Regions from separate parts of the Homo sapiens genome. Here regions 1, 2, 3 and 5 are each linked to region 4. The links come from fine-mapping of genetic effects on gene expression. A gene starts in region 4. Each other region holds a variant in brackets. All regions are shown on one strand. Distances are between the middles of the regions.

Region 1 (6,129 bases), 74 kb before region 4:
ACTGTGCTTTAAGCATGGAGAGGATTTTTGTATCTGTCCTGGGATCCTACATCAAACAGCATGTGGTGATTGTGAACACAAACGTACAAGACTGTGAACCCTACCAAGTTTCCTTCTTCCATTAGATATGAATAAGGAGTCATGAGTTTCCTTTGGAATGTCCTTTAGCCTGTTGGTACATGTTTTGCCTGTGACGAATGCAGTTACTCATAAATCATTGAGCACATTGGGTACAGAGGGCAAAAGATAAATTCCTGTATTTCCTCTATTCGGTCAACAGAAATACCTCTAGGCCATAATCCATTCATCCAATCTAATAATTTTGCCATCCATAAAACCTTCAGGTGTTCTGAATTCAACATCTTTTTTTTTTTTTTTTTTTTTTTTTGAGACAGAGTCTTGCTCTGTCACCCAGGCTGGAGTGCAATGGCAGGATCTCGGCTTACTGCAACCTCCGCCTCCCAGATTCAAGCGATTCTCCTGCCTCAGCCTCCCGAGTAGCTGGGATTACAGGTGCCCGCCACCACGCCCAGCTAATTTTTTGTATTTTCAGTAGAGACGGGGTGTCACCATGTTGGCCAGGCTGGTCTCGAACTCTTGACCTCAGGCAATCCACCCGCCTCAGCCTCCCAAAGTGCTGGGATTACAGGCGTGAGCCACCATGCCTGGCTGAATTCGACATCTTGCACCTAATTCCTGTTCAGTTAAAGACCCAAATCATGATCTCTGACTTACCTGGATATTTGAAAGATTAACTTGCTGTGGTGATACCATACTAGAGTCACAAAATCAAGCCCTACCCTGCCACAGCCACCTAAAGGAAATTAGGTGATATACAAAAGAAATTGACCATATTGTTGTCCTTTTAGTGACTCTCCTAATTTTCTTCCCCTGAAAACTTACAGAGAAATTTGAGTATGTTTGCCTTAGGTGGATGCTTGTTTTTTTATTGATATGAAAAGCAGTAAGAGGAAATGGAGTTTTTTGGCCTGTTAAGGAAGGGCAGCCACTGTAAACACAGTTGAGTGCAAATTCACAGTGTTAGAATGTTGAAGTGTATATAATGATTTTGCAAAATTTTCTACAAGGCTGATACAGTATCCAATCAGGACTAGGATTAGATATATTGTCATGTATGTTTGCGCAGGAAATGCAGAGACTCTAAGGTGCTACAACTGCAATTTGACATGTGGGATAGTTCACTGGTAACTGTTGATCTCCCTGAGGTTTAAGTTTACAGTTCCACAGCTCTTTATCTGAAACTCTTGGGCTATGTGTTATGGAATTTAGAATTTTTTCCGAAATACGTTGCATATATTGTATATTATGACATGATACCTCCAAGAAAGACTTGGAGTCACATCCTATAAACAAACACATGAATATATCCCAGTGAAATGTATGACTATTTTTACTAAAACAAATGAGAATCATAAATAGACTTACATTACTTCAGGTCAGATTTTGCTGCCGAATTAGTTTGGGCATCGAACTTTTGGTTTCAGAGACAAAACTGTGAAATTTTAGATTATATTATGGGGTTGTGGACCCATGTAACCCTCCTCTCCGTAATTCCTAAAAGCAAGCAATTGCATCAACCAGTCTCATGAGTAGCTGCGATTCTAGAAATCAAGAATCCGGATCTGAAATTAGCCGGGCATGGTGGCAGGCACTTGTAATCCCAGCTACTGGGGAGGCTGAGGCAGGAGAATCGCTTGAACCCAGGAGGAAACTGCAGTGAGCTGAGATCGTGCTGCTGCACTCCAGCCTGGGCAACAGAGTGAGACTCTGTCTCAAAAAAAAAAAAAAAAAAAAAAAAAGAATCCAGATCTGGGCAGGACCGAATTGCTGACATGCCCCCGGTATAGCAGAGACGTTTTGCCTACATGTTACACACCTGAGTAATAGTTGTCAGCAGCTGATGAAGAAGATGAATGTGCTCTTAATGTCCATCTTTGATTTCCAGTCATTTTGCTTCTGGGTCTTGGCTTCCTGAGGAAAGAAGTCTCCAGTAGGTGAATGCAGTGATATGGAGAATACTTTCTTCTGGCTGCATGCAGTAACTCACACCTGTAATCCCAGCACATTGGGAGGCTGAGGTGGGCAGTGCACTTGAGGTTGGGAGTTCGAGACCAGCCTGGCCAACATGGCAAAACCCCGTCTCTACTGAAAATACAAAAATTAGCTGGGCGTGGTGACAGACACCTGTCATCCCAGCTACTCGGTAGGCTGAGGCATGAGAATCACTTGAACTTGGGAGGTAGAGGTTGCAGTGAGCCGAGATCGTGCCTCTGCACTCCAGCTGGGCAACACAGCGAGACTCTGTCTCAAAAAAAAAAAAGTGTGTGAGAGAGAGTACTTTCTTCCTGTTTCCTCATAGGCCAGTTCTCTCTGGCATGTGAGTTTAACATCAGTCACCTCCTTCACACACAGCGGGTGCATTCGTAATAGGAGGTCCTTAGCTGGGAGTTTTTATGGCACATCAGTGGGGCGTGAAAACACCACATAGGAGCTAATATATCTTTGCTGGCTGCTTTCTCCGGCTCCGCAGCAGACAGAAACCCTATGAATCATATCCAGGGGTCAGGTGCAGGCAACAGACAACTAATATCTCCCAAGTGAGTTGAAAAGGATCTTGTTACCCAGCATCCTAAGGAGGTTGTAGCCTTGGGAACCA[C/T]AGGCAAGAATAATTAACTCAGCTCCTCGGTTAGTGCCTCTTCAGTTCGAGATGGAATTTATTTGCAGGCATGGCTCCTTAATATGCCAAACCCATGCTCAAGACATACTCCTTCTCCTGGAAGGTTAACGTGGCTCCTGTGGCTGTTCCATCCCTGAGGAAAAGTGAGGACCATGCTCTCCAAACAGGCCATGTGCTGGACTACCTCTGTTTCTGTCTCCTGGGATTCCAATCAGCAAGTGAGCAACGAAGCAACCCAGACAGTGTGGTTCATAGGATGGCTGGGTAAGTGGCTGTTTGTTTTTTCCTTACTGTGGATATGTATCAGTGAAGGAATCTGTAGAACATTCTTGATGGGAACATTTAGTCATATCAAGTCAATAAATTAATGTTTAGGCTGGGCGCAGTGGCTCACGCCTGTAATCCCAACACCTTGGGAGGCCAAGGCGGGCAGATCATCTGAGGTCAGGAGTTCAAGACCAGCCTGGCCAACATGGTAAAATCCCGTCTCTACTAAAAATACAAAAATTAGCTGGGTGTGGTGGTGCATACTTGTAGTCCCAGCTACTCTGGAGGCTGAGGCAAGAGAATTGCCTGAACCTGGGAGATGGAGGTTGCAGTGAGCTAAGAGTGCACCATTGCACTCTAGCCTGGGCAACAGAGTGAGACTCTGTCAAAAAAAAATTAAAAAAAAAGAAAAATCATTATTTTATTTTTGACTTATTATTAATATAAATAATTATATCTTGGCCGGGCATAGTGTCTCATGCCTATAATCCCAGCACTTTGGGAGGCCAGGGCAGGCAGATCACTTGAGCCAAGAAGTTTAAGACCAGCCTGGGCAACACGGTGAAACCCTGTCTCTACAAAAAATATAAAAAATTAGCTGGGAGTGGTCAGCTTGCCTGCAGCCCTAGCTACCTGGGAGGCTGAGGTGGGAGGATCACCTCGGCCCAGGAGGTAGAGGCTGCAGTGAGCCATGATTGTACCACTGCACTCCAGCCTGGGTGATAGAGTGATGAGACCCTGTCTCAAAAAAAAAAAAAAAAAAAAAAAGAAAGAAAGAAAGAAAAAAGAAAGGAAAAGAAATCATATATTGGTGAGGAGACAATTCAACACATATTTTTTATTGAACACATACTATGTGTCAGGGTACCAGATATAAGCTCTATCTACAAGGATTTTAGGAGCTGGAGTATGTGTATGGGGGGATGTATGAGTGTGTATAACAAAGACGACTCCTGGGGAAGAAGAGGAAGACAAGCCCCAGAGGTATACTGCATAGGCATAATACACAACAGGCTAGCAAAGAAGCAAACCATGGGTATGGTAGAGAGAATCAGAGGATACATTGGGGACCATGTCTAGTGAGTGAGGTCAGGAGAGACTTCAATAATCTGAGTGAATTTAGACATGGGCCTTGAAAAGTGGACAAGGTTTGTTGTTGTTGTTGTTGTTGTTGTTGTTGTTGTTGTTGTTGTTGTTTTTGAGATGGAGTCTCATTCTGTCGCCCAGGCTGGAGTGCAGTGGTGCGATCTCGGCTCACTGCAAGCTCCGCCTCCCAGGTTCATAACATTCTCCTGCCTCAGCTTCCCGAGTAGCTGGGACTACAGGCGCCCGCCACCACGCCCAGCTACTTTTTTATATTTTTAGTAGAGACGGGGTTTCACCGTGTTAGTCTGGATGGTCTCGATCTCCTGACCTTGTGATCCACCCACCTTGGCCTCCCAAAGTGCTGGGATTACAGGCGTGAACCACTGCGGCCGGCCTAAATTTGTTTTAAAAGTACGCATAGGAAGGCTGGGGGCTGTGGCTTATGCCTGTAATCACAGCACTTTGGGAGGCCAAGACAGGCAGATCACGAGGTCAGGAGATCGAGACCATCCTGGCTAACACAGTGAAACCCCGTCTCTCCAAAAAAACAAAAAATTATCCAGGCCTAGTGGCACACGCCTGTAGTCCCAGCTACTTGGGAGGCTGAGGCAGGAGAATCGCTTGAATCTGGGAGGTGGAGGGTGCAGTGAGCCACTGCACTCCAGCCTGGGTGACAGAGCAAACTAGGTCTCAAAAAAAAAAAAAAAAAAAAGTACATGTGGGGGACAGGTGCAGTGTCTCAGCCTGTAATCAATCCCAGCACTTTGGGAGGCTGAGGTGGGTGGATCACTTGAGGTCAGGAGTTCAAGACCAGCCTGGCCAACATGGAGAAACCCCATCTCTACTAAAAATACAAAAATTCGCTGGGCGTGGTGGCGCACGTCTGTAGTCCCAGCTACTGGGAAGACTAAAGTGAGAGAACTGCTTGAGCCCAGAGGTCGAGGCTGTGGTGAGCGGTGATTTCACCACTTCAGTCTAGCCTGGGTGACAGAGAGAGACCCTGTCTCATATAAACAAATAAATAAAAGTTTATTTATTTATTACACATATTTATTACACATTATTACAAGACCTTGAACTAACAACATTAACATGCATTTGTTAAAGGAAAATAAATTAGCTCAGATGCTACTACTTTTCATAATACTTGCACGATTGATTTCAATCCCTGTTCATCTGAATGGAGAGTTGCAGGTATACTATGCAGCTATTCTACTTATATTCTGTTTTTTAATGTAACAGTATTATTTCTTGATGTCTCTACACATTTTATATCACTTTAATATTTAATAAAAACATCTACCATAAGTTCTAAAATGGTAAAAGGAAGAATAGTCATTAGTACTGTCACTACCCTGAATGAATACAAATACAGTTTGCACTAGGGCTTATTTTGCTCCTGTCCTTTGCCTGTGCATTTCATTTTTGCATCGTGGTAATCATACTGGGTGAATTTTGTATTCTGTAATTTCAACTGAATATTATATCATAAGTGTTATCTACAAGTTCCATGAGGACCAAATCTTCTCCACCTTTTTCACCATTTTACTTAGCATGGTATAGTAAAGCTGGCTCAATAAATATTTGCTGATTGAATAAATGTTGTTACATGCTCTTCCTGATTAACATATATATACGCATATACAATTTTTTAGTGACTGCATTAATTTACTTCATTTTTTCCTAATTGTTGGATATTTCAGTTGCCATTTTTTTGCTTTTATGAATAATGTGTTGATGAAAAGATTTGTGCATATAGTTTTCTCTGCATTTGGACTATTGTCTTTTTTTTTTTTTTTAAAGATAGAGTCTTGTGCTGTCACTCAGGCTGCAATGCAGTGGCGCAATCTCGGCTCACTGCAACCTCCACCTCCCGGGTTCAAGCTATTCTCCTGCCTCAGCCTCCTGAGTAGCTAGAATTACAGGTGCCCACGACCATGCCCAGCTATTTTTGTATTTTTAGTAGAGAAGGGGTTTCACCATGTTGGCCAGGCTGGTCTCGAACTCCTGACCTCAGGTGGTCCTCCTGCCTCGGCCTCCCAAAGTGCTAGAATTACAGGCATGAGCCACCAACGCCC
Region 2 (5,947 bases), 71 kb after region 4:
ATGGATTTCAAGATCCTTGAAGGCAGAGCCTGAACATTTCCCAGCGTTGTGTGCCTGAGGCCAGCATCAGGACTAGCACATGGGCAAGGCATAAATGTTTGTAACTTACATTAGAACTGCCCCTGGCACACCAAGCCATTTCTTGCCTAAACTCATCAGGAAGTTGAAAGTTTTAGAATAACTCAAGTCAGAGATTGGAATGGAAGCACACACTGTAAGCATTGAGTTTCATCTAAAACATTGAAGTGATCTTATCTCACCAGAAATTGCCAATCTCTTATGTAGAATTGTACAGTCTTCAGGATAGATGGTGCAGGGTGTGCAGCAACTTTGACCAGCAAGCTCCAATTTTCTAGCAAGTGGTCTTTTACAGTACTCTTCCAGACTTCAAAGTTTGACTCCCTACAGCTGTGTGGATGACTGCACTAATAATTGCTTTTATTCCCCATCTCACCCTCGTCCCTCTTAGCTTGACCAGGTTTTGACTTGAGGCTGTGTGCCATGTCCAGAAACACTAGTCTTTACATTTGAGCAGTAGAATCTTCAGGCAGAATTAGTATTTTATAGTTTTTGTTTGTTTTTGAGACATAGTCTCCCTCTGTCGCCCAAGCTAGAGTGCAGTGGCACGATCTCGGTTCACTGCAACCTCTGCTTCCTGGGCTCAAGGCACCTTCCCTCCTCAGCCTCCCCAGTAGCTGGGACTACAGGCACACACCACCATGCCTGGGTAATTTTTGTATTTTTTCTGGCAACAGGGTTTACCCATGTTGCCCAAGCTGGTCTCAAACCCCTGGGCTCAAGCAATCTGCCCGTGTTGGCCTCCTAAAATGCTGGGATTACAGGCATGAGCCACCGTGCCTGGCCTATTTTGTAGGCTTTTAAAATGATTTTAAGTGTATGGCATTTTTGTGAGTTAGTAGTTGAGAATAATAGAGTGCTTTGATGAACACAGTAATTTGAAGTCAAGCTTTATGTTGCATTAGTCTCTTTAGGCTCAATATCCTTTTGTTTTCCTTTTTGCAAAGTAATAAGAAAGCTCCTCTTCCTCACGAGTATTTAATTATGACAATATGAAAATAGTTCTCCTTACAAGTCTTACAGTACTTCTCAGTTAAACAAGAGAAGCTTTATTCTGAGATTTGCCCAAAGGCAAGTTGACTTGTCATAATAAGTTTAAGTGTTAGGTTTGCCTCCCCTACTACCAATTTTTAAAAATTTTCTATAAAATACATTTGCATATCACAAATTTTTATTTTTAAAAAACAAACTTTGAATTACATGTTTTCTTGGAATCTTCAAAGTACTCAGTGCATGGTTCGAAGATCATTTAAGTTGACTTATGGATTTAGAGACCCAAGTGGGGCTACCCTTTTATGCTAATTATAGAATTTTAATTCCTGATTTCTCAAAGGATTATATAGACTAGCTAGTTGACCACAGAAAAGAGAAGGAAGATGCTGGGCCCCCTAGCTGGATACCTTTGCTGTTGCATGCCCATTTAGAGGGGGTCTAGCGTGCCACTGTTAACCGAGCCACGTGAAAAGCTTTATTGAGTTTTGACTTAGATACCATATAATCCACCCATTGAAAGTATATAGTTCAGCTGGGCATGGTGGCTCACGCCTGTAAATCCCAGCACATTGGGAGGCCAAGGTGGGCAGGTCACTTGAGCTCAGGAGTTTGAGACCAGCCTGGGCAACATGATGAAACCCTGTCTCTATTAAAAATAAAAAAATTAGCTGGGTGTGGTGGTGGGTGCCGGTAGTCCCAGCTACTTGGGAGGCTGAGGTGGGAGGATCACTTAAGCCCGGGAGCTGGAGGTTGCAGTGAGCCGAGATTGCACTACAGCACTCCAGCCTGGGCGACAATGAGACCCTGTCTCAGGAAAAAAAAAAAAAAAAAAAAAAAGTATGCAATTCAGTGGGCTTTAGTATATTCAGAGTTGTACAGCTGTCATCACAACCAATCAATCTTAGAACATTTTTATCATCCCCAAAAGATACCCCATACCCATTAGCAGTCATTCCCCATTTCTCCCTTTCCCTAAACCCTCTAGTCTTAGATGTTACCTTTTGCTGTCGCTCTTGGTGCTTCCAAACCTCCTTGGCTGGGGAGGGGGAGGTAGCACTGACCATACATGTCAGGGCTGGGCACACGTGCCCTCAGAACCTCAGTATTCCCAACTAAGGCAGTGGCTGAGTCAGCATCCTTTCAGTATTTCACTTTCTTGAGCTCAAAAGATAGAGTAAGTCTATCCAAGGGGATATAGGCATAACCCAGAGGTTAGGAGCAACAGATAATTAACTACTATTGCTCTAAGGCAAAGAATCTGAGAAGCGGAATGAGAGAATCCAATAATAAGCTAAAGGTACTTAATTCAGCAGAGTCAAGGGAAGGCAGCTTCATGTCTGTGCACCTGCCTGTTAAAAAGAGGTCAAGTGCATGAGTTGGATGTTACTTTTATATGCAGCTTAGGAAGTTAGCTACTGTGAAGCTCTCAATTTTTATTCATAAACTTGACTGTTAATGTGAATTCAGTAAGAGCTTTTGTGATTTTCTTTATTTTATCAAGGGGCAAGAACATATTTCCTGCATCTCACAAAATGCCGTTTTAACTTTAGGTTTTCTTTATGATGAATGCAGACCATACTTATCTCAGACAGCTGCAACATAAAGCTTTAAAAGACTGCTTAACATTTTGTATATATTTAGTGTAAATCACTCATTTTGTCTCTGGGGTACAAAATCTCACTTCTATTTTTAAGTATCATATTTTAGCTATGAGATGAGCACAGTAATCTTTGCAGAGTACCATAATAGGAATA[G/C]AGAAGTCCGTGGAATCAAAGTTAATTTTCTTCGGGTTGTCTAATGGATCAGTTTATTTCAGTGCTGTAAATAATTAATAACCAAGGAAATTGTAAGCTCATTCAGGATTTTCTAAGGTCACTGTTAGAACTTCTTAAACAGAAGAAAGCTATGTTACTTGGAGGAAAACCTGAAGCATCATTGCTTACAAAATTTGCTTAATGGTTCTTTTTGGCTTTAGAAGTGATAGTACAATAAGAGGCCATGGCAATGTAGTTTAAAAGAAATCCTAATTTACCTGCAGTCTGATAATTTTAGGGGTACAATTTGTTATTTTGGACTAACTTGCTTGTCTAATTTATCTCCATTAGGTCCATAATACATATTGCTGAAGAAATGACATATGTTGTACTTTGTTGGTATTTTATATCTGTGCTCTAAATTTCTGTTTTTAGATGGGCCATGTAGTGTGGTGGCTGAGACCATAGGCTCTGAAAGCAGTTTTCTGAGCTTGCATCCAAGCTTCACACTTGCTTGGTGTGTGGCCTTGGGCTAGTTAATTTCACTACTTTACCTTGGTTTCTCATCTATAAGATGGGCATCATAGCAACACCTACCTTGCAAAGTTTGTGTAGTCGTGAAATGAGCTAATCCAGGTAAGGTACTTGGAAAGTAACTGGTTGATGCATAGTAAGTGCTATTATGTAAGATATACTTTGTTCTGAGTAGAAAATGTATATTCTTTGAATACACACTGGTTGGGTTTGTTTAATCTATATGTATATTCTAAAATGTGTAAGTCTATCAAAGTGATATACAGTCAGCTCTCCATGTCTGTGGTTTCCACATTCATGAATTCAACTAGCCGTGTATAGGAAATATTTGAGGGGTAAAATGGATGGTTACATCTAAACGTGCAGGGTTTTTTTCTTGTCATTATTCCCTAAACAATATAGTATAACAACGATTTGCGTAGCATTTACATTGTATTAGGAATTATAAGTAATCCAGAGATGATTTAAAGTATATAAGAGGATGTACATAAGTCATATGCAAATACTGTGTCATTTTGTATCAGATACTCGGCATCTGTGGATTTTGGTATCCAAGTGGGGGGTGTCCCGGAACCAATCCTCTACAGATACCAAGGGACAACTTTATGTTTAAGTGTTACTTTTAGTATTTTATTGGAGGTAGCCAATACAGTATATTAGTGTATACTAATTAGTGTATACACCTCAGCCTCCCAGAGTGCTGAGATTACAGGCATGAGCCACCACACCTGGCCGAAAACACATGTTCTTAAAAACATTTTTAAAAGTTAGCCTTTCTGAAAATAAACATTCTAAAAATCTATTTTTAGCTTTATCACATCCACCTATAATGTGAACTCAAACAGCTACATGATTAGTAGTTTTAATTGCATTCATTAAAAGGGTTTTAATATTCAAAGATGTGCAAACATCTTCTTGCGTCTGCCATAGTCTTAAATATCACAGAAATGAGTGTAAATTATGTCAAATAGCATCCTTAATAAACATGCCTCTGGAAATTAATGCAGACCTTTTTGTTTATATTTCTATAGCTACAATCAACCTAAATTCAGCCAATGATAGCTGGTTTGGCAGCTTAAAGGACACTATTCAGCATCAGCAAGGAGAAGCGGTTTGGGTCTCTGAAGGAAAGGTATGTGGCATAGATATGCTGCTATGAGGTGAGAGTCCCTGTTCTGAAACTTTTCTCAAGAGGGCAGTGAATGTAGTCAAGCCATGCCCATTTGAAGTGATGCTCACATGTGTGCTAATCAAGTTTGAAATTTCGTAAATTCTCTGACCAAGTAATAAAAATGAAGGGACTTTTAAAAGAAGAGCAGAATGTGACATGTGCAGCCCTACATTCACTTCCCTTTCACTTTTAATGTAGTAACTAGTGTTATATTCCAAGTACACTAATCAGAGCTTACAAGATCTCATGCTGAGCTCCACAGCTTACTAAGGACGTGGGAAACTTAGAGTGCAGATGAGAGGTGAGGTTGAGCAACTTGGAGAATACGGCTAAACATTAATAAAAAGAAAAGCTAATGGAGTTAGAATTACTTAGAAAATAAGGTTGGTTGAGAATGTGCCATCGTTCTGGGAGTTTGAATGGGTGATATGAGAACGTTAGGGAATTTGTCTAGGCCTCTAGAATTGGATCGCTTCTCCCTCGGGGAGATAGCTCACACACAGCTGTGCTGCAGGGAGGAGAGAGGGAGATTCTATTACCTGTGGCCGCTTTTATTTTAGAAGCTTTTGGTGTTAGTATCCTGTTCACCAGCTGAACTGAGGTAGTTTTGTGAGACTTGACAGTGACTATTTTGTTGCAGAATTGACTAAGTTTTGCTCTTTGAGAACTAGATGTGTAGTCAAAGTATCTGGCATCTATGGAGTGCTTCCAGTTTGGAAGGGGGATGCAAGCTTCCCTGGGGAGGACAGGTTGAACAGGACATAGCTTCTGCCTTTGAGGGTCTGAGAATCTTGTAGAGGCATGGATGTGAGTGTAGCACAAGGCAGCGTGCAATGTGTTGATATTACTAGGAGAGTGGTACCAGGAGAACAGGCTGCAGAGGAGCTGGATTCAGAAGAAAAGCAAGACAGACTGAGAAAGTGTGGCTTAGCCGCGGTATGGAGGATGGATGGTAGCACAGATAGGCTGCAGGGCCCCTAATTTGAGTTCCTGCACAAAAACGACCATAATATCAACATTGTACCAAAGCCAAGTGATCTCAGGGAGAAAAATAAAAGATGCCTTCCCTGGCGAGCACATCAAGGTTTCAGTCGCTTGGCTGTGTCCTTGGGAATTTTCTTGAGTCCCCACTCCCAGGAGCCACATCAGACCCCACTGACCGTCCAACACAAATTCCTCTAGATGGAAGGGATGGATGATGACCCCGAAGACCGCATGTCCTACTTAACCGCCATGGGCGCGGACTATCTGAGTTGCGACAGCCGCCTCATCAGTGACTTTGAAGACACGGACGGTGAAGGAGGCGCCTACACTGACAATGAGCTGGATGAGCCAGCCGAGGAGCCGCTGGTGTCGTCCATCACCCGCTCCTCGGAGCCGGTGCAGCACGAGGAGGTGAGGCGAGGCAGGCCACGGG
Region 3 (6,129 bases), 64 kb after region 4:
ACATACGACATGTGCAAAGGCCATGGCTGCTGGCTGGTGCGCCTGTTACCCCTGTCCAGTCTGACAAGTTGTTTCACCTTTCCAGGCCTTGTTCCCATCTGTTAAGTGGGTGTTGAGAGTGTCCTCCTTGTCTGCTTCAGAGCTTGATTGGCAACTGTGTTAATGTTCTCCAGAGAAACAGAATGATAGGAGATATTGGAATCAATAGGAAAGAAAGAGATTTATTATAAAGAATTGGCTCACATAATTATGGAGACTGGCAAGTGCCAAGATCTGCAGTGAAAATGGGCAAGATAGAGACTCAGGAGAGCCAGTGATTTAGTTCTAGTCTCAGTCTGAAGGCCTGAGAACCAGGAGAGCCAATGGTGTAGTTCCAGTACCAAGTCAGGGAAAAGAGCTGATGTCGCCTTTTGAAGGCCATCAGGCAGGAAGAGTAGTTTCCTCCTAATTTTTTATTTATTTATTTATTTATTTATTTATTTATTATTATTTTTTTGAGACGGAGTCTGGCTTTGTCGCTGAGGCTGGAGTGCAGTGGAGCAATCTTGGCTCACTGCAAGCTCTGCCTCCCAGGTTCACCCCATTCTCCTGCCTCAGCCTCCCGAGTAGCTGGGACTACAGGCGCCCACCACCACGCCCGGCTAATTTTTTGTATTTTTAGTAGAGACGGGGTTTCACTGTGTTAGCCAGGATGGTCTCGATCTCCTGACCTTGTGATCCACCCACCTTGGCCTCCCAAAGTGCTGGGATTATAGGCATGAGCCACCACGCCCAGCCTAGTTTCCTCTTAATTGAGAAGGGGTCTGATTGTCATTCTCTTCAGGCCCTCAACTGATTGGATGAGGCCCACTCGCATTGGGGAGGGCGATCTTCTTTGCTCAGTCTACCCATTTATACGTGACTGTCATTCAAAAACACCCTCAGAGAAAGGCATAGAATAAAGTCTGACCAAATACCTGGTTATTTCATGGCCCAGTCAAGTTGAAATAAAATTAACCATTGCAGCAAGCCGTGAAGCTGGTTATTTGTCCTTGTTCCTGTTGGAGCTGTGACTCCCATAGGACTTGTGCACTGAATGGAAGGAAGGTAAAGGGGAGATCAGAGATAGGAGAAGCTGTGTTGAGTGTCTAGTACTGTAACTTGTACTAAGCTGAATGCAACAAACGATGCTTTTGTCTTTCAGTGTATAGAGACATCCTGGCTTGTGGCAGAGGGGATTCGTTTTTTATAAGAAGCCACTTTGAATGTGAGAAGGAAACTCCACAGAGCCTGGCCTTCACCAGAGGGGAGGTCTTCCGAGTGGTAGACACACTGTATGACGGCAAGCTGGGCAACTGGCTGGCTGTGAGGATTGGGAACGAGTTGGAGAAAGGCTTAATCCCCAACAAGAGCAGGTAACAGAGATCGCATTCTCACATACCCCTTTTAATCCTTCCCCCTGCAGAAAACTAGAGACCGCCCCCCTTCCCCCGTAAAAGGAAACCCCACATGATGAGTTCATTACTTGTCACCATCTATTTCTTGTTTATGGAGAGTGGCCTGAACTGTAAATAGCCACCAGCCAGTTTATTGTGAGTAAATTTAGCATCATGTGGTTGGTTGCTGAATGTGGCTGTTTGAACAACTTCCTAAGGAGCATCCACTGCCTTGTACCGTATACAAGAGATATACTGAATGGCCGTAGCACACCAGCACACCTCTTAGAGACAAGGTACCCTTGTCCGGTGCCCAGTCTCCATCCTTGGAGAGGTTTATGCACCCCAGTGAACACTTGGTGTTTGGCTGACAGTGCAGGAACCTAGAAAAGAGGCCTGTATTTGAGCAGGAGTTCCAGGTGTGTGTACTGTGTACCTGCATATCAGAATGGGCCAAATTTCACATGTTTATTGCTGAGCCACTTCTGGGAGATTTCACAGAGACCCAGCCTTTTTCTGCTCCCATTTGGAAGTGAAGGTCCCCACATTTCCCACCCTCTGAAACTTCTTCATTGTCAAGCGGAATCTTCTCTGAGCTCAGAAGTAAAATTGACTGGATTTGATTAATGAAATGCATGTTAGCTGCGTTTTCTGGCTTTAGAGATTTACTTCCCGTGGTTTCTTCTCAGAGCTGAACAAATGGCCAGTGTTCAAAATGCCCAGAGAGACAACGCTGGGGACCGGGCAGATTTCTGGAGAATGCGTGGCCAGAGGTCTGGGGTGAAGAAGAACCTGAGGAAAAGTCGGGAAGACCTCACAGCTGTTGTGTCTGTCAGCACCAAGTTCCCAGCTTATGAGAGGGTTTTGCTGCGAGAAGGTGAGGAAGTCACATGGGGCCTGGAAATGAACTGACTGGGCTCTGAGCCTGTTCACCTTTATTTTCAGACTGTATGGTCAAGTTCTAACTTATGTATGTCAGTTATGCCAAAGGCAGTTTATAGAGTTGAAATCAAATTCTAACAAGGAGCATGATTTATAAAAAGCTGTTTCAGTTCCTAAATTGAGGCTTATTTCTGCAACTTAAAAAATGTTTTAATACCACTGTTCAAGAGTTTCGGTATATTGGCTGGGCACTGTACCTTATGCCTATAATCGTAGCACTTTGGGAGGCCAAGGTGGGAGGATCACTTGAGCTCAGAAGTTCAAGACTAGCCTGGGCAATATAGTAAGACCTCATCTCTGCAAAAAATAAAAAAAGTTTCCATATATTATCAATGGGAAAGTTTGTGTTTAAAAATGGTGAGGAGCTAGGCAGTGTAGTCCCAGCTACTCAGGA[G/GGCTTGAGGTAGGAGGATC]GCTTGAGCCTAGGAGTTTGAGTTTAGTCTGGGCAACATAGTGAGATCTTGTCTCTTAAAAAAAAATCTAGGTTAGCATGTGGTTGAATGAAAAGAAAAAAATTGTTTTAAATGGTGAGGATAGTGAAGGCATATTCTTCAGAACAGAGCCAAGCTGAATTGGGGAGAAACCACAGTTTCTTTCGTTTAGTTATGTTATCAAAAGCCCATACAATACTTTTACTGCTTATCATAACAGCTAGGCAAGTGTGTATGCTTTAATGGCCTTTCTTGTCATTTCAGCTGGTTTCAAGAGACCTGTGGTCTTATTCGGCCCCATAGCTGATATAGCAATGGAAAAATTGGCTAATGAGTTACCTGACTGGTTTCAAACTGCTAGTAAGTCTGTCAGTGTTTTTTTTTCCCCCAAATTTTTATTTTGAAAAATTTCTAACAGAGGAGTTGGAAGAATCATGAACACCCACGTACCCTTCACCTGGAATCACCAGTTGCTGACATTTTGTCACGCATTTTCTCTCACCCACTGCCTGCACCATAGACACACATACACACACACATACACATACTCTTTGAAAAATTTCTGCAGAATCATTTATAACACTTTATCCCTGAATACTTGTGTGAATCTCCTAAGAACAAGGACTTTCTCCCACATAACTGCAATACCATTATCACAGCCAAGAAAGGTAACATTGATGTGGTGTGATTTTGTATATAGTCCATTTTCCACGTTTTCTTAATTGTCCTAGTTATGTGCTTCATAGCTTTTTTTTAAATTCAGAATACAACCAAGGACCATTCATGACATTTGATTTTTATGTCTTTTTGTGATTTTTATGTCTTTCCAGTCCCCTCTTTTTTCTAAATAACTTTGTTACACTGATATTTTGAAGAATCCAAGCTAGTTGTCTCCTAGAATGCTTCCTGTTGGACTGGCCTAACCGTTTCTTCATGATTAGATTTCCACTAAGCAGGTTATGTGGGTCCTTCCCACTGAATCTTGTTAGGAGACACTTAATGTCAGGTGTGCCATCATTGCTTGATGCTAGGTGGGAGTATTTGGTTGTCACTGTTTTCTAAACAATTATTTAGCTTCCTGTTTTTGCTTTTGCAGAAACGGAACCAAAAGATGCAGGATCTGAGAAATCCACTGGAGTGGTCCGGTTAAATACCGTGAGGCAAATTATTGAACAGGTGAGAAAATTCATCCACAGACCGTGTTTTCAGAAAGAATTAGATTATGGTTTGCTGCAGTCACTTTTAGGATAGTATCTGTACTTTTAATCATTAAATGTTAATAATAAAAAATTGGCCGGGCACAGTGGCTTACACCTGTAATCCCAACACTTTGAGAGGCTGAGGCGGGTGGATCACCTGAGGTCAGGAGTTCGAGACCAGCCTGGCCAACATGGTGAAACCCTGTCTCTACTAAAAATATAAAAAATTAGCCGGGCACAGTGGCAGGTACCTGTAGTCCCAGCCACTCAGGAGGCTGAGGCAGGAGAATCGCTTGAACTCAGGAGGCGGAGTTTGCAGTGAGCGGAGATTGCACCATTGCACTCCAGCCTGGGCGACGAGTGAAACTCCATCTCAAAAAAATATATATATAATGTAAATGCAAACCGTTTCACTGTGTGGAAACCAGTCACTGTTGGCAGTGAGCGGAGATTGCACCATTGCACTCCAGCCTGGGCGACAAGAGTGAAACTCCATCTCAAAAAAATATATATATAATGTAAATGCAAACCATTTCACTGTGTGGAAACCAGTCACTGTTACTGTTCTCTGGCAGTAACATACTGTTTTTTTTTCCAGAGTTCCCAGCATTATACCAAATAATGTGTTAATTCATTTTATCAGAAGTTCTAACACATTGGTAATATTGAAGTGGGCATTAGGTAGAAGGAAATGTGTTCTGCTTCTTGATTTAAATTTACAAGATAGGTGGCTCATGCCTGTAATCCCAGCACTTTGGGAGGCAGAGGCGGGCGGATCACCTGAAGTCAGGAGTTTGGGACCAGCCTGGCCAACATGGTGAAACCCTGTCTCTACTAAAAATACAAAAATTAGCTGGCCATGGTGGTGGCGGGCACCTGTAATCCCAGCTACTCAGGAGGCTGAGACAGGATAATTGCTTGAACCCGGGAGGCGGAGGTCGCAGTGAGCCAAGTTTGTGCCACTGCACTCCAGCCTGGGCAACAGAGCAAGAATCTATCCCAAATAAGTAAACAAACAAACAAACAAGATATATCTCATACAGCCTTTACTTATTAAAACAAAGTATTTGATGCTATATTACTTTATATATCCATTTCTCTAACTTTTCCCCTTTTGTAAACAGGATAAGCATGCACTACTGGATGTGACTCCGAAAGCTGTGGACCTGTTGAATTACACCCAGTGGTTCCCAATTGTGATTTTTTTCAACCCAGACTCCAGACAAGGTGTCAAAACCATGAGACAAAGGTTAAATCCAACGTCCAACAAAAGTTCTCGAAAGTTATTTGATCAAGCCAACAAGCTTAAAAAAACGTGTGCACACCTTTTTACAGGTAAGTGAAATGTAAATGTAGTCCCTTTGCTAAAAAATGAGAAATAAAGAATTGAAGAGTAGAAGAAATAATTAATTAATCTGAATGGAGAATTTGAAATTGTGTTCATGACTCCTTGAAAAATAGTTAATCCTATAAAATGGGATATTAGGCCAATGGCATTTATATATTGAACTTTGTAATTTTGTCTATTTGAAAATGACCATAAAGATCCATGATGTGGTAATAATTAGCTATTTTGATGAAGTTCATATTTTCCTGTGAGACTATAAGGCTAGTGATTGAGCCAGGCCAAACACCTATGTCTCTCTAGAGATTGTGTCATTGTTCTCTACTCACCATCAATACATGCATTAACTTACAAAGCGAAAGGAACTTGGTTTCATTATTTAAAAATATTCCTGTCCAGCATGGTGGATAACACTTGTAATCCTCCCACTTTGGGAGGCCAAGGCAGGAGGATCACTTGAGCCCAGGGGTTGGAGACCAGCCTGAGCAACATGGTGAGATCCTGTCTCTACTAAAAGGCCTAGCATGGTGGTGCATGCCTATGGCTGAGGTTGGAGGATCGCTTGAGCCAGGAATTCAAAGCTGCAGTGAGCTGTGATGGCACTGCTGCACTCCTGCCTGGTGACTGAGTGAGACCCTGTCTCTTCAAAGAAAAAAAAAAAAATCTAGAAACTTGGACACTCTGAATATTGGATGATTTAAAGATTTATTATTTCTCTTTGTTAGGTGTGATAATAATATTGTGATTTTTTTAAAAACAAAGTTCTTTGAGGAATGCATACTAAATAAAATATTTATGGTTGACCTAATATAATGT
Region 4 (6,129 bases):
GCTGATCTACTTCCTTAGTTTCTCTAGAATCTGGCTCCCTTTTGTCTAACACTGCCTAACTTCATAGCCACGTCATCTCTCACCTGCATTCCCACAAAAATGCATTTTTGGCCGGTCTTGTCATTCTTACTAACATTCTCCTCCCCCACCAACCCCTGTCCCCCACCAACTGTCAAATCCATCTTTATACTTGCCTGGGCAACTTCACCTTCTGGCACCTCAAGAGTAAGCCTGCTGTCTCTTCCTTCCTTACTTCTCTCTGTGTTATTTATTCCCCTTACCTGGAAGGCTTTTTTCCTTCTTTGTGTCTTAAAAACTCATTCCGACCTCTCCTTTAGAATGTATAAGCAACCCCATCTCTGGAAAGCCTTCCCTAAGTCTCTCCTGCTAGACCACTCTGAGCCTGCCAGGAATCTCAGTGCTTACACAGTTTATCATTACTTGTTGATTGTCTACTGCAATAGACTGAGTTTCCTAAGGCAGGATCCTGAGTATTTTATCAAGGGGTTGACAGAGGTGTTCAGTAAGTACCTGTTGAGTAGAAGAATTTTTTTTTTTTTTTTTTTTTTTTTGAGACGGAATCTCGCTCTGTCACCAGGCTGGAGTGCAGTGGTGCAATCTCGTCTCACTGTAACCTCCGCCTCTTGGGTTCAAGCGATTCTCCTGCCTCAGCCTCCTGAACAGCTGGGACTACAGGCGTGCGCCACCACGCCCAGCTAATTTTTGTTATTTTTAGTAGAGACGGGGTCTCACCATGTTGGCCAGGATGGTCTTGATTTCTTGACCTCGCGATCTGTCCGCCTCGACCTCCCAAAGTGCTGGGATTACAGGCATGAGCCACCGCGCCCTGCGGAGTAGAAGTTCTTTGGATAAACACATTCTAGGAGTGGGGTCAAAATGTGCAAACCCACACGTGAAGAAGATGACTAATAAATTGTTTCTCCAAAGAGTTGTATTGATTTACACTGCCACCAGCAAAAAAGCTAATATATCAACTGAACCGTGTTTCTAACAACCATTTACTGAATGCTTATCATCTGTCAGGTGTTGTGCCAGAAGAATGGAGTTTGTCTATAAATATTTCATCATTTCGAGTAGTGCAGTCCAACAGAACTTTCTGCATTGATGGAAATATTCTATATTTGCACTGTCCAATAGGGTAGCTATTAGCCACATGTGGCTTCTGAGCCCTTGAAATGAGACAAGTGTGACTGAAGAACTGAATTTGTCATTTCCTCTAATTTTAGTTAATTTACATGTAAATGTAAACACTTACTGGTGGCAAGTGGTCATCTTATTGAACAGTGCCGCTCTAGAGAGAAAAAAGGAAATCAGTCAGTAGATGTAACTGCCACATTCTGGATTATTTTTTAAATGTTAGTGGCTCTAAGCCCACATCATTAAGGTGTGGCCACCTTTCAAGTGCTATCATTTTTATTAGTCAGCACCACCTAATTTGGGAAATATTTTATTTTTTTTTCCTTTTTTTTGATTAAAACAATTTTTAAAAAATAGAGATGGGGTCTCACTATGTTGCCCAGACTGGTCTCAAACTCGTGGGCTCAAGTGATTCTCCTGCCTTGCCTTCCCAAAGTGCTGGGATTACAGGCATGAGCCACCGTGCCTGGCCAGATTTGGGAAACATTTTATAAATAGGTGCTTAGATCAGGAGAGCAATGCCTTACATCAGGAATACAACCAAAATGTCTAAGTCCGGAGACTCGAGGCAAAGTGGGAAACGTTACTCACAGTGCTTTTTATCCAGAGGCGTGGACTTAGTTACTCCAAAGGAGTCCAGAAGCATAACACTTCTGGAGAGGCATCTACTGGACTTGTTTTTCCACGAAACTTCTAGACTTGTTTTGATCAGGCAGGAAGTGAAGCAACTTTTCAGGGAGAGAGCCCAGCATCTGCATCTCCTCTGGGACAGACCACACCTTTTACCTTCTACTTGTGAGCCTAGGACGAGTTTTGCTTTCCAATTAAGGGAAGAGCAGGGCAGGCAAAACTATTCTCTTACAAGATGGTTTTTTAAGATTTCAAACCCAAGGTTATATTTTTAATCGGTACCTGTTTGGATTCTCCAAATTAATTTATATGCTCTTAAAATAAAGACACTTAACGTCACTGCACAATTCTTTGCACATGGAGGACTTCGAAAGGAATAAGCACACTGAATTGCATTAGATGAATCCTGTCAGATAAGCACTTGTGACCTACTGGCAACCTTTTATAAGCTGATGATGGGAGAGGAGTTTCAATCTCTTTATTGGAGTTGTTGGAAATGTGCCAAAGAGATAACCTGGAATATATTGTCCTGAAAAGTCCTGTTTTAATATTTAATACGAACATCTTATAACCCTCGGAATTCGGGTAGGCAGTTGTTGGGCTGAGAAATGTGGGGTACAAGGCCGTGTATGTGTTGGTTAGCCGGGCAGGCCTCTAGACAGGACCTAAAACTTTGAGGTTTTCCCAGTTCGACTCTTCGTAGGAGAACTGAAGCTGCCTGTGTGAGGCCCTGCGAACCTCGCCAAAAAGTCTTCCTACAGGATGCCCCCGCGACCTCACCGGGGAAACACCGCGGACAGTCGGGCCAGCAGCGCCCGGAGCTCACTCCAGGTCTCCAAACTTGCAGCACTTCCCAGAGCGCGCGCGCTCGGAGCGGGACCTGCTTGCTCCAGTGCACGCCGCGGAGCGAACCATCGGGCTGGCGGGGGTGGAGGGGTGCAGGCGTGGGGGCTGCGGGCCGCTCGGGCCTTGGGCTTCTCCTGCCGCCGCCGCCGCCTCCCGCCCCCGGCCAGGAGTCGCGCGTGACGCGGTTCGCCGCAGGAGCCTCGAAGGCGCGGCGCCGGCGAGCCCTTCCCCGGCAGGCGCGTGGGTGGTAGCGGCCAATTTGACAGTTTCCCGGGCCGGGCGGCCAGCGCGGAGGCGCCACGCTCGGGTCGGGGGCGGGCTGACGCCGCCGCCGCCGCGGGAGGAGGGACAAAGGGGTGGGTCCCCGCGGGTCGGCACCCCGGCGGTTGGGCTGCGGGTCAGAGCACTGTCCGGTGGTGCCCAGGAGGAGTAGGAGCAGGAGCAGAAGCAGAAGCGGGGTCCGGAGCTGCGCGCCTACGCGGGACCTGTGTCCGAAATGCCGGTGCGAGGAGACCGCGGGTTTCCACCCCGGCGGGAGCTGTCAGGTTGGCTCCGCGTAAGTGCCTCCTTGTGCCGCGCGGTTGGGAGGAGGGTCGTGAGCGTGAGCGTGGGAGCGCTGGGGGCTCTGCTCGCGTGCTGCTCTGAAGTTGTTCCCCGATGCGCCGTAGGAAGCTGGGATTCTCCCATCCGGACGTGGGACGCAGGGGAGGGGTAGGTTTCACCGTCCGGGCTGATGACTCGTGGCCTCCGGGGCTCCTGGAACCTTTACTCTGAAGTCACTTGGGCTGGAGATTAAGGCGCGAGTAGGGGACACTGTCTTGAACCCGGTGTCCTGGATTTCTGCTGGCTTGGAGGCATCTCGTGTCTGTTGTGTCGCTTGCATGTCTTTGTGTTTTCCTTCTCTATTTCAAACCACACTCGGTATTGATGCAAAGTTACAGGCTTGTGTACGTGAGAGAAACTGAAAACTCATCACAGAGCAGAATCCCTTTTCCCTTTCAATCAGCTGCGTCTGTAATAGAAGTAAAAGTTGTTTTTTTTTTTTTTTTTTTCCAGTAGGGAATGGGGATGGAGGTTTGGAAGGACCCACAAAAGAGGAGTGTGATGAATGCTTTGTATTCTAGTACTAGCCTACCTGTCACCAGTTCTTTTTATGTCTTCATTTGTCAAGTTTCTGCTTTTACACGGTAGTTTAAGTTATAAATAATCAGGGATTTCTACCACAGGGTTTTAACATTCTTGAAATGTGGACAAACTTGGGAGTGAGTGCTCCCGCGCTTAGTAATGGAATACAGCCTCCCACCTCTATTTCAGCTTCAGTTCTTAGGCTAGGCTGCTTTTCTGGCAGCTGTCTGGCCTGAGTAATGATGGTTGTGGTTTCCCTGAAGTTCCCAGCGGAGAGTCATCCCATGATAGAAACTGCCTTGCGCTTCTCACTCACGCTCTCAGCCCGGGGAATCCCAGCGGGGAGGAGGGAGGGAGGTCGTTTTCTTCAGCTCCCCAGGTGGTCTGTGCTGGGTGTGCTGACGGTCCTTTTGGGAAAACAGGTCCACCTTTGCCAGCGTAATTCAGAAAGAGATGTAATTTTCTGAGAGCACACACCTGGGCAGGAGATCGCTTGAAGTGAGAAATTCGTAGTGGTAAATGTATTTGTAGCAAAGTACCACTGCATATCCTGCTTGAGAGGATGAAATTTGATTATTTAGTAAGTTTTCATGAACAACTCCACTTCAGTGTGGGGATTACGCAGATGAGCAAGAGCGTGGCTCTGTCACACAGTCCCGTTGGGAAAGCCTGCAACTCATTAAGAATCCGATGAGTGCCATTTAGAAATGTGGACAGGGTACTGGAGCTTCCTCATTGTGGGGAGATGGCAGAAGCGGAGGTGCTTTACTAAAGCACCGGTGGCTTTTGAGGTGTTTCTTGTGTTTTTTTCAGAACTACTTCTGCAGTGGGGCCACTTTATTTCTTTTCAGAGCTACTTATGCAGATTGATGAAGGGGAACTTTCCCCTCTGAAATGCTGCTGTAACTTTTTCAGTACCATCCAGATATTATAATACTGAATGAGCCCCTACTCCTGCCAGTCACTGTGGGGGATACAAAGATGAACAAGATTCAATTTCTGCATTTAGGGGTCTAGTGGACCTGAAACTGTTAGACTTTACTCTGCAATCTGTGTCGGGATTCCTGAGACTGAGGGAGGGAATGTATGATGCCGATGCACACTCTGCAATACAGAAATTTAGCAAAGAGTGGGATTGGTCCTATATGCATTCCCTTCAGGGGATTCTTGCTGGGAATAAAGGGCATTTGAACAGTTACCTCACCCGAGCAAGCCACTATAGAAAATGGGGCCAGTAATGCGCCCACCTCACCGGGCTGAGTGAGGTCTGAATGAAATGACAGAGAGTACAAGGCATGTGGTGGATGCTACGTAAATGGTGGTAGCTAGTAATAGGAACAAAACGGGTGCTGAAAACTCTTAAGTGTTGGGTCCTGGGTTGATAAGGGAGGTGAGATCTAAAGATACAAGTAGGAGGTGCCAGGTAGGTGTCCAGGAAAAAACTGAAAGAGTTGTTGTTCACACTCTGTTAAAAGGCCTTGAAGGCCATAACGAAGCTTTGGGTGGGGGGAAGTCAGAAATCCCTCATGTATTAAATGACTTGACTTTCCCTACAAAAGAAGCGAACCAGTTTCCCAGTAAACATCCCACCCCATAACTATTTTTGAGGCATTCATAGGCTTAAGACCAATGAATTTTTACATCACCCCCGGGGGAATTGCATTTGCAATGACTTCTGCCTACATTTAACTTTTGATCTAGTTCTTTGTACACTGACAAAAGTTCACAGCCAACCATTTCTCTTCAGGACAAGTGTGAGAACTTTCTGCATACTGCTGAAGGCAAGGGAGATTTTGAGTTTAGCAAGGTTTTCTCTCCTTAAGAAGGTTATCTTTTTACGAGACACAAGTTATTGAAACTAGGCGGGGCCACTTTAGTCCTGTGTACAATAATATGTGTAGTAATATAAATAGTAATTTAAAAAGTCATGCAGACTTGGTTGGGGAGAGGCATGAAGTTTGGGTGTGGTGGGGGCGGGGTGAAGCGGTAGAAGGGTTCGCAATCACTGCTGAAACTTTCAACATATTCTACCAACAATATGAGCCACCAGGGAATTCCTTGCCTCATCTCTAGAACGAATCCCATTAAGCAGTTGTGGCTACAGATGAATTTATCTAGGTTGAGAGCTGATTCCCAATAACATGCCTCATTGATTTGACTCTAAGCAGTAATCAGGGGCCCAACAGTTGTTGGACCAACCAGCCTTGATTTTCCAGAGAAGGTGATTTGGTATATGGTAGTGTCTGAGGGTGAGATTGCCCCAGATGGGAGTGGAGGGAAGCAGAACAGTTTTCTCTGGTGTTTTACTGAGTTTTTGTCTTGATCCTAAATCCAAGGGTTAGGGTCAGAAACACAGACTCAGAGGTTAGA
Region 5 (6,129 bases), 41 kb after region 4:
AAGGCTAAGGATATTTTTAGACATAAACATGCAGAAAACTTGCCTACGAGGTCACCTTTGACAGGAAGAGGGGGAGAATGATTTTAAAAAAAGAATCTATTTGAAACTAGATATTTTTAAAGGGGTTTTATGATGATAATGTTTTGGAATAGTGATAATAAAAGGACTCAGCACTTAACATTCCATTCTTTTTAGGGTCTGTCTCTCACTATGTATTTCACTTACCTTTCAAGTATTGTTTCTAGTTTCATTTCATTGAAGGAGAGTGTGTTTGAAAATAGGTAGCATAATGAACAGATATTAACTCTTTTTTGGTATAGAAAGTGTGAGCTGGACTTTATGTCGAGGCATTTTGAATGATAATTTTATTTCTAGCATTGAAAAGGTTGTGGTTTTCATCAGATTGGTTTTGTTCTTTTAAAACAGGCCCCAGGCATGGAAGAGCTGATATGGGAACAGTACACTGTGACCCTACAAAAGGTGAGTTCTGCACATTTCATATATTCTACAGTCATGTTCTTGATTTTACGGATCATGGATCTTATTTATTTTCACCTACACACAGTTTTGGCTTTTTTTTTCCCTTGAGGTACATAATGTATTATAGATACTAACTGGCAATAATTGCTATGTTAACAAAGATTTGCATGCTATTGTATTTTTTGATTAAGGACTGTTTAGTATGGAACATTTTAGAGGTTATTTAGTGTATACTCTTATCTCCAGCTAGAACAGGTTATGAAAGAGAGAAAAGAAAGGGAAGAATGAAAATGACCTGTACTGTTTAAGGATGTGGAGGGAGCTTTTTACAACTTCTGTAATTTTAATTATGACATATTATACATACCTTATAACTCTTAAAAAGTGTAGCATCCAAGAGACTGTAAGTCATTTGTGTGAGGCTGAGCTGGAGAACTGCACTCGTGGTTCTGCATTTTTTTTTTTTTTTTTTTTTTTTTGAGACGGAATTGCACTCTTGTCGCCCAGGCTGGAGTACGGTGGTGCAATTTCGGCTCAGCGCAACCTCCGCCTCCCGGGTTCAAGCAATTTTCCTGCCTCAGCCTCCCAAGTAGCTGGGATTACAGGCGCCTATCACCACGCCCGGCTAATTTTGTATTTTTAATAGAGACGGGGTTTCTCCATGTTGGTCAGGCTGGTCTCGAACTCCTGACCTCAGGTGATCCACCCACCTTGGCCCGCAAAGTGCTGGGTTGCAGGCGTGAGCCACCGTGCCCAGACGGTTCCGCATTTTTATTCCGTCAAGCTGCCTTCCGGTCATCATCACTGTGATTTTCCTGGTTTTTCTGCAGGGTTTCTTCTTCTGGCTCTGAATTCCTCCAAGGTCTGACATCTCCTAGAGGGACCATAAGTTCCTCATAGGAAGAGTTTTCCTTTGACCCTCAGAACTGTGAGCTTCAAGCTTTGTCTTCTATGAAAATTAAAGACATTCCCGAATTTAATGTTTGTTGAATTAATCCAGGTAGAAAAAAATGTCTCTGGGCCAGTGCCCAGGTACCCAGACTTCCAGATCAGTAATCACAATTTCCTCATTTGAGGGGTTTTGTCTGCTTAGGTCTTATTTTTCAACTTTCCTCGTCTTTCTGACTCTCCTCTGCCCTTTCCCTGAGCATTTCATGCATTCCTTGAGTTGTGGACCCAAAATTGGCAGAGGTCAGAGATTTTTTTAGGCTTGGCATAGAGGATGGAGCTGCCTCTGTCTAAAACCAGGTGCCGGCTGGTGGTGCTGCCAAATTCAAAGCCATGTGATTAATAGACAACACCCCCAACCTGTTTTGAGTTTGTAATTGTGTATAATCAGTCAGCATAGTGGGCCTCACGTGGGAAACTTTCCTTGGAAAGGAAGATTTTCTTTTAGTCTCGGAGTAAATTTTTATATAATCGAACCCAGATTTAAGAATATACAGTCAAATATACTCATATTATCTGGATGAAACTGGGCTTAGATACATATATATATTTTTGAAATGGAGTCTCATTCAGTTGCCCAGGCTGGAGTGTAATTGCATGATCTCAGCTCACTGCAACCTTCACCTCCTAGGTTCAAGTGATTTTCCTGCTCCAGCCTCCTAAGTAGCTGGGATTACAGGGGTGTGCCACCACACCTGGCTAATTTTTGTATTTTTAGTAGAGATGGGGTTTTGCCATGTTGGCCAGGCTGATCTCGAACTCCTGGACTCAAGCAATTCACCCGCCTTGGCCTCCCGAAGTGCTGGGATTACAGGTGTGAGCCACCGCACCTGGCCCAGACTTAGCTTTTTAAAACACAAATGAATTAGGATTATGTATTATCTATGCTCACCATTGTGCATTGCTAGACTGATCATGGATGTAATAAATCTTATTTCCGATCTTCCATGCATGAAGAAAAGGGTTTAGTGCTTTGCTTTTCATGAGATCTCAACACATATTTTACGTTCAAATTTTATCTTTAAAATCCAGTTACGGGCCGGGCGCAGTAGCTCACGCCTGTAATCCCCACACTTTGGGAGGCAGAGACAGGTGGATCACAAGGTCAGGAGATCGAGACCATCCTGGCCAACATGGTGAAACCCTCCCTGTCTCTCTACTAAAAATACAAAAATTAGCTGGGTGTGGTGGCACATGCCTGTAGTCCCAGCTACTCAGGAGGCTGAGGCAGGAGAATCACTTGAACCTAGGAGGCAGGGGTTGCAGTGAGCCAGCACCACTGCACTCCAGCCTGGCAACAGAGCAAGACTCCATCTCAAAAAAAAAAAAAACAAACAAATCCATTTACTTCTTTTTCACTGTATGTTGAAATGAAACTACCAACACATCTACTTTGAAGTTAAAGGTATACTTTAAAAATATAATTTTAGGCAGACATAAGAAAGAACGAAATATGTCCTTTGCAGCAACACGAATGTACCTGGAGGCCATTATCCTAAGCAAATTAATGCTGAAACAGAAAACCAAATACTGCATGTTCTCACTTAGAAGTGGGAGCTAAACATTGGGTACACACAGACACAAGGACAGGAACAGTAAACACTGGGAATTCCAAAAGTACGGAGGGAGGGAGAGGAGCAAAGTTTGAAAAACTACTTCTTGGGTACTGTGTTCGGTACTTGAGTGACAGGATCATTAGAAGCCCAAACCTCAGCATCAGACAATACACATATATAACAAACCTGCACATGTACTCCTGAATCTAAAATAAAAATAAAATTAAAAAGGATTGGCTAGCACTGGGAAGAGCAGTCTTTTCCCGCCCAGCTAGAAAGTTGTG[G/GT]TTTTTTTTTTTTGTTTTTTAGAGACTTCTCCATTTGCCCAATTTAAAGTGCAAAAGCTGCCTTGGCTTGTTGAAGCCTTGACCTCACAGGCTCAGGTGATTCTCCCACCTCAGCCTCCCAAGTATCTGGGACTATGGATGTGCACCACCATGACCAGCTATTTTTTTCTATTTCTAGTAAAGACAGGGTTTTGCCATGTTGTCCAGGCTGGTCTTGAGCTGCTGGACTCAAGCAATCTGCCTGCATTGGCCTCCCAAAGTGCTGGGATTATAGACATGAGCCATGAGCCTAGGCAGAAGGTTTTTTTTTTTTTAATATGTCAAAACATCACAATATACAGAAGAATTAAAAATATTTACAGTACAGGCCAGGCACAATGGCTGTCTGTTGTAATCCCAGTGCTTTGGGAGGTTGAGACAGGAGGCTCATTTGAGCCCAGAAATTTGAGGCTGTAGTGAGTAGTGATCACACCGCTGCACTCCAGCCTAGCAACAGATCAAAACTCTGTCTCTTAAAAAACAAATACAATAAGGAAATCTGAAAATTAAAAAATACAGTTTTAGTACAGGTTCAGTTTTTACTGAAGTTGTTCCAGCTCGGGCCAGCATGATGCAAAGAGGTACAACTGGTGCTTCAAACAGTACGTCCCTATTTGGACTGAAGACATTGTTTCCTATCCCGGCCAGCTTCTAGTGATAACTCCAGTCTGCACTATCAATCTTTTCCAGCCTCTACAGGCTGTTTCTTTCAGATAAGGAATTTCCCTTTATAAACCTGTCAGCTGACAATGACTATGCTTTGTTTTGTTTCTCATTTGTTTCTGTAAGCCCATCTGTTCCTGAACAGTCTCTGGTTATTGATTTGACCTTTATTTTATTGAGTGCTTGTAATAAATCCTGAAAGCCACTTATTGAAGGATTTTTAATATTTCTCCTCTCTGATGTACAGGATTCCAAAAGAGGATTTGGAATTGCAGTGTCCGGAGGCAGAGACAACCCCCACTTTGAAAATGGAGAAACGTCAATTGTCATTTCTGATGTGCTCCCGGGTGGGCCTGCTGATGGGCTGCTCCAGTGAGTGTCCTCCCTCGCTCCGCAGCCCCTACCAGCCCTACTGGTTGGCCCTAGACGGGGTATTTTGGTTGGTGTCCACTTTATTTAAAAAAAAGAAAAAAATAACAAACTTTTATATAATATTTGAAAAGTCTTCAAGCTGGAATGGAAGCCATAACACACCATGTTTGAATAATGCCCAAACCTTGGGAACACCCCAGCTTTGGAGCGAGGAGGGCAGTTGTTTCCGTAAGAAGATAGTTCCAAACATCCCTCCTAGGTTTAGGAATCATTTCTGAACATGGAGTTTTAAATTGGCATGCTTCTCAACCCCGATGCTTAACCAACACTGTTTATGTTTGTTTTAATTTATATTCTTTAAGAATTTAATGAGGAGACTTTGGTTTATTGATTATCTTATTTGTAAGAGTGATGTGGAAGTTGGGACAATTTACTATAGGAAAACCACAAGTTTTCCAACTGCCAGCTTTCTGACCTGAAGAAGTAACACCATTTTATTTTAATTTTTAATAAATTTTTTCTTTTCTTTTTTTTTTTTTTTTTCAGACAGAGTCTTGCTCTGTCACCCAGTCTGGATTGCAGTGGTGCGATCTCAGCTCACTGCAACCATCACCTTCCGAGTTCAAGCAATTCTCTTCTGCCTCAGCCACCTGAGTAGCTGGGATTACAGGTGCCTGCCACCACTCCCAGCTAATTTTTGTATTTTTAGTAGAGACGGGTTTTCGCCATGTTGGCTAGGCTGGTGTCAAACTCCTGACCTGAAGTGATCTGCCCACCTCGGCCTCCCAAAGTGCTGGGATTACAGGCATGAGCCACCATACCCAGCTGGTAACACCATTTTACATGATACATGCCTGATTCCCACAGGATAACTTCTCAGGACGAAGTCTAAAGTTAACTGTATGGCTGCATTGGATAAATAGCTCAAAAGTTTAGGTTTTGTTGGTGTTTAAAGCCTCTGTGAACTAAGCACAGTGGCTCACGCCTATAATCCTGCACTTTGGGAGGCTGAGGTGGCAGGAACGCTTGAGGCCAGGTGTTCAAGATCAGCCTGGGCAACCTAGTGAGACCCTGTTGGGATGGCATGTACCTACTCGGGTCCCAGCTACTTGGGAGGCTAAGGTGAGAGAATCCTTTGAGCTCGGGAAGTTGAGGTTGCGGTGAGCTATCATCAGTCACACTACTGCAGTCCTTCCTGGGTGAGAGAGGGAAACCATGCCTCTTAAAAAATAAAATTATAGTTAAGAAAGTCTCTATAGTTTTATCAAAGTTAGTAGTCTTTCATATGGAGAAATGCAAAATTTTAAAGTAATATTTGGGATGAACTGGAACAATAGGATTCTGTGATCTCAAAATTTCTTAAGAATCCAAGGCAAGCCCTTTTCCTGCACAAAAGCACAAATGGATATACACCTACTTGGAAGGAGTGTTTTTAGACTTTTCTGAAGCCCACCGTGCACCTCAGGCAATAGGGGACTGATAGAGAAATTCCTTTTGTGTCCAGACCTCACCGTCATCAAGTACCTCCTGGTGTGATGCTGTGGTTTGGGGAGATCAGGCCTCTCTCTTCCCAGATGATTTCCATTTAGACACTCAGAATTGAGCTGTATGGCCCCCAGTTCCTTTCTTTGGAAGATCTCAGGCCAAGTTGACTGGGCCTTGGGCGCCACTAGACACTGAGCCCTTTAGAAAGCCTTTCAGGTCTATTTGCTGCTTCTATTTGTTCCTAAATAAATAATTTACAATGAATAGATGGGAGTTTTTCATGACCCATTTTTATTTCTTGT

Alleles and levels. Alleles are on the strand shown, and positions count from the first base shown. SD is a standard deviation of normalised expression in the study named. Not every link is listed here.
As copies of G replace GT in region 5, the expression in monocytes of the gene that starts at base 3,035 in region 4 goes up (large effect, 1.0 SD a copy in Schmiedel 2018).

What was found. PIP is the estimated chance that this variant, and not a neighbour inherited with it, causes the effect. A credible set is the group of variants that fine-mapping cannot tell apart.
Region 1: its variant is the best candidate, but not a certain one, in a credible set for the expression of TJP2 in T cells (TOPMed, PIP 0.85).
Region 2: its variant is the best candidate, but not a certain one, in a credible set for the expression of TJP2 in sigmoid colon (GTEx, PIP 0.81).
Region 3: its variant is the best candidate, but not a certain one, in a credible set for the expression of TJP2 in coronary artery (GTEx, PIP 0.64).
Region 5: its variant is the best candidate, but not a certain one, in a credible set for the expression of TJP2 in monocytes (Schmiedel 2018, PIP 0.84).

What each region holds. Positions count from the first base shown.
Region 1 is chr9:69,097,100-69,103,228 of GRCh38, forward strand. No RefSeq gene overlaps it. Among named protein-coding and RNA genes, the nearest start is that of FXN, 64 kb to the left of the region's middle. The variant C/T (reference allele first, on the strand shown) is at 2,678.
Region 2 is chr9:69,242,300-69,248,246 of GRCh38, forward strand. TJP2 (tight junction protein 2) reads left to right here. Exons shown (of 23, transcript NM_004817.4): 18 at 4,391-4,491; 19 at 5,713-5,925. Among named protein-coding and RNA genes, the nearest start is that of BANCR, 62 kb to the right of the region's middle. RefSeq lists an enhancer at 1-482. The variant G/C (reference allele first, on the strand shown) is at 2,826.
Region 3 is chr9:69,234,845-69,240,973 of GRCh38, forward strand. TJP2 (tight junction protein 2) reads left to right here. Exons shown (of 23, transcript NM_004817.4): 13 at 1,184-1,394; 14 at 2,105-2,292; 15 at 3,034-3,129; 16 at 3,866-3,945; 17 at 5,093-5,303. Among named protein-coding and RNA genes, the nearest start is that of TJP2, 64 kb to the left of the region's middle. The variant G/GGCTTGAGGTAGGAGGATC (reference allele first, on the strand shown) is at 2,752.
Region 4 is chr9:69,171,243-69,177,371 of GRCh38, forward strand. TJP2 (tight junction protein 2) reads left to right here and starts at 3,035. Exons shown (of 23, transcript NM_004817.4): 1 at 3,035-3,190. The coding sequence starts at 3,131. LOC124902175 (a long non-coding RNA gene) reads right to left here and starts at 355. Exons shown (of 2, transcript XR_007061566.1): 1 at 1-355. RefSeq lists a silencer at 2,624-3,053 and an enhancer at 3,944-4,133.
Region 5 is chr9:69,212,122-69,218,250 of GRCh38, forward strand. It overlaps TJP2 (tight junction protein 2), which reads left to right. Exons shown (of 23, transcript NM_004817.4): 2 at 427-480; 3 at 4,218-4,342. Among named protein-coding and RNA genes, the nearest start is that of TJP2, 41 kb to the left of the region's middle. The variant G/GT (reference allele first, on the strand shown) is at 3,269.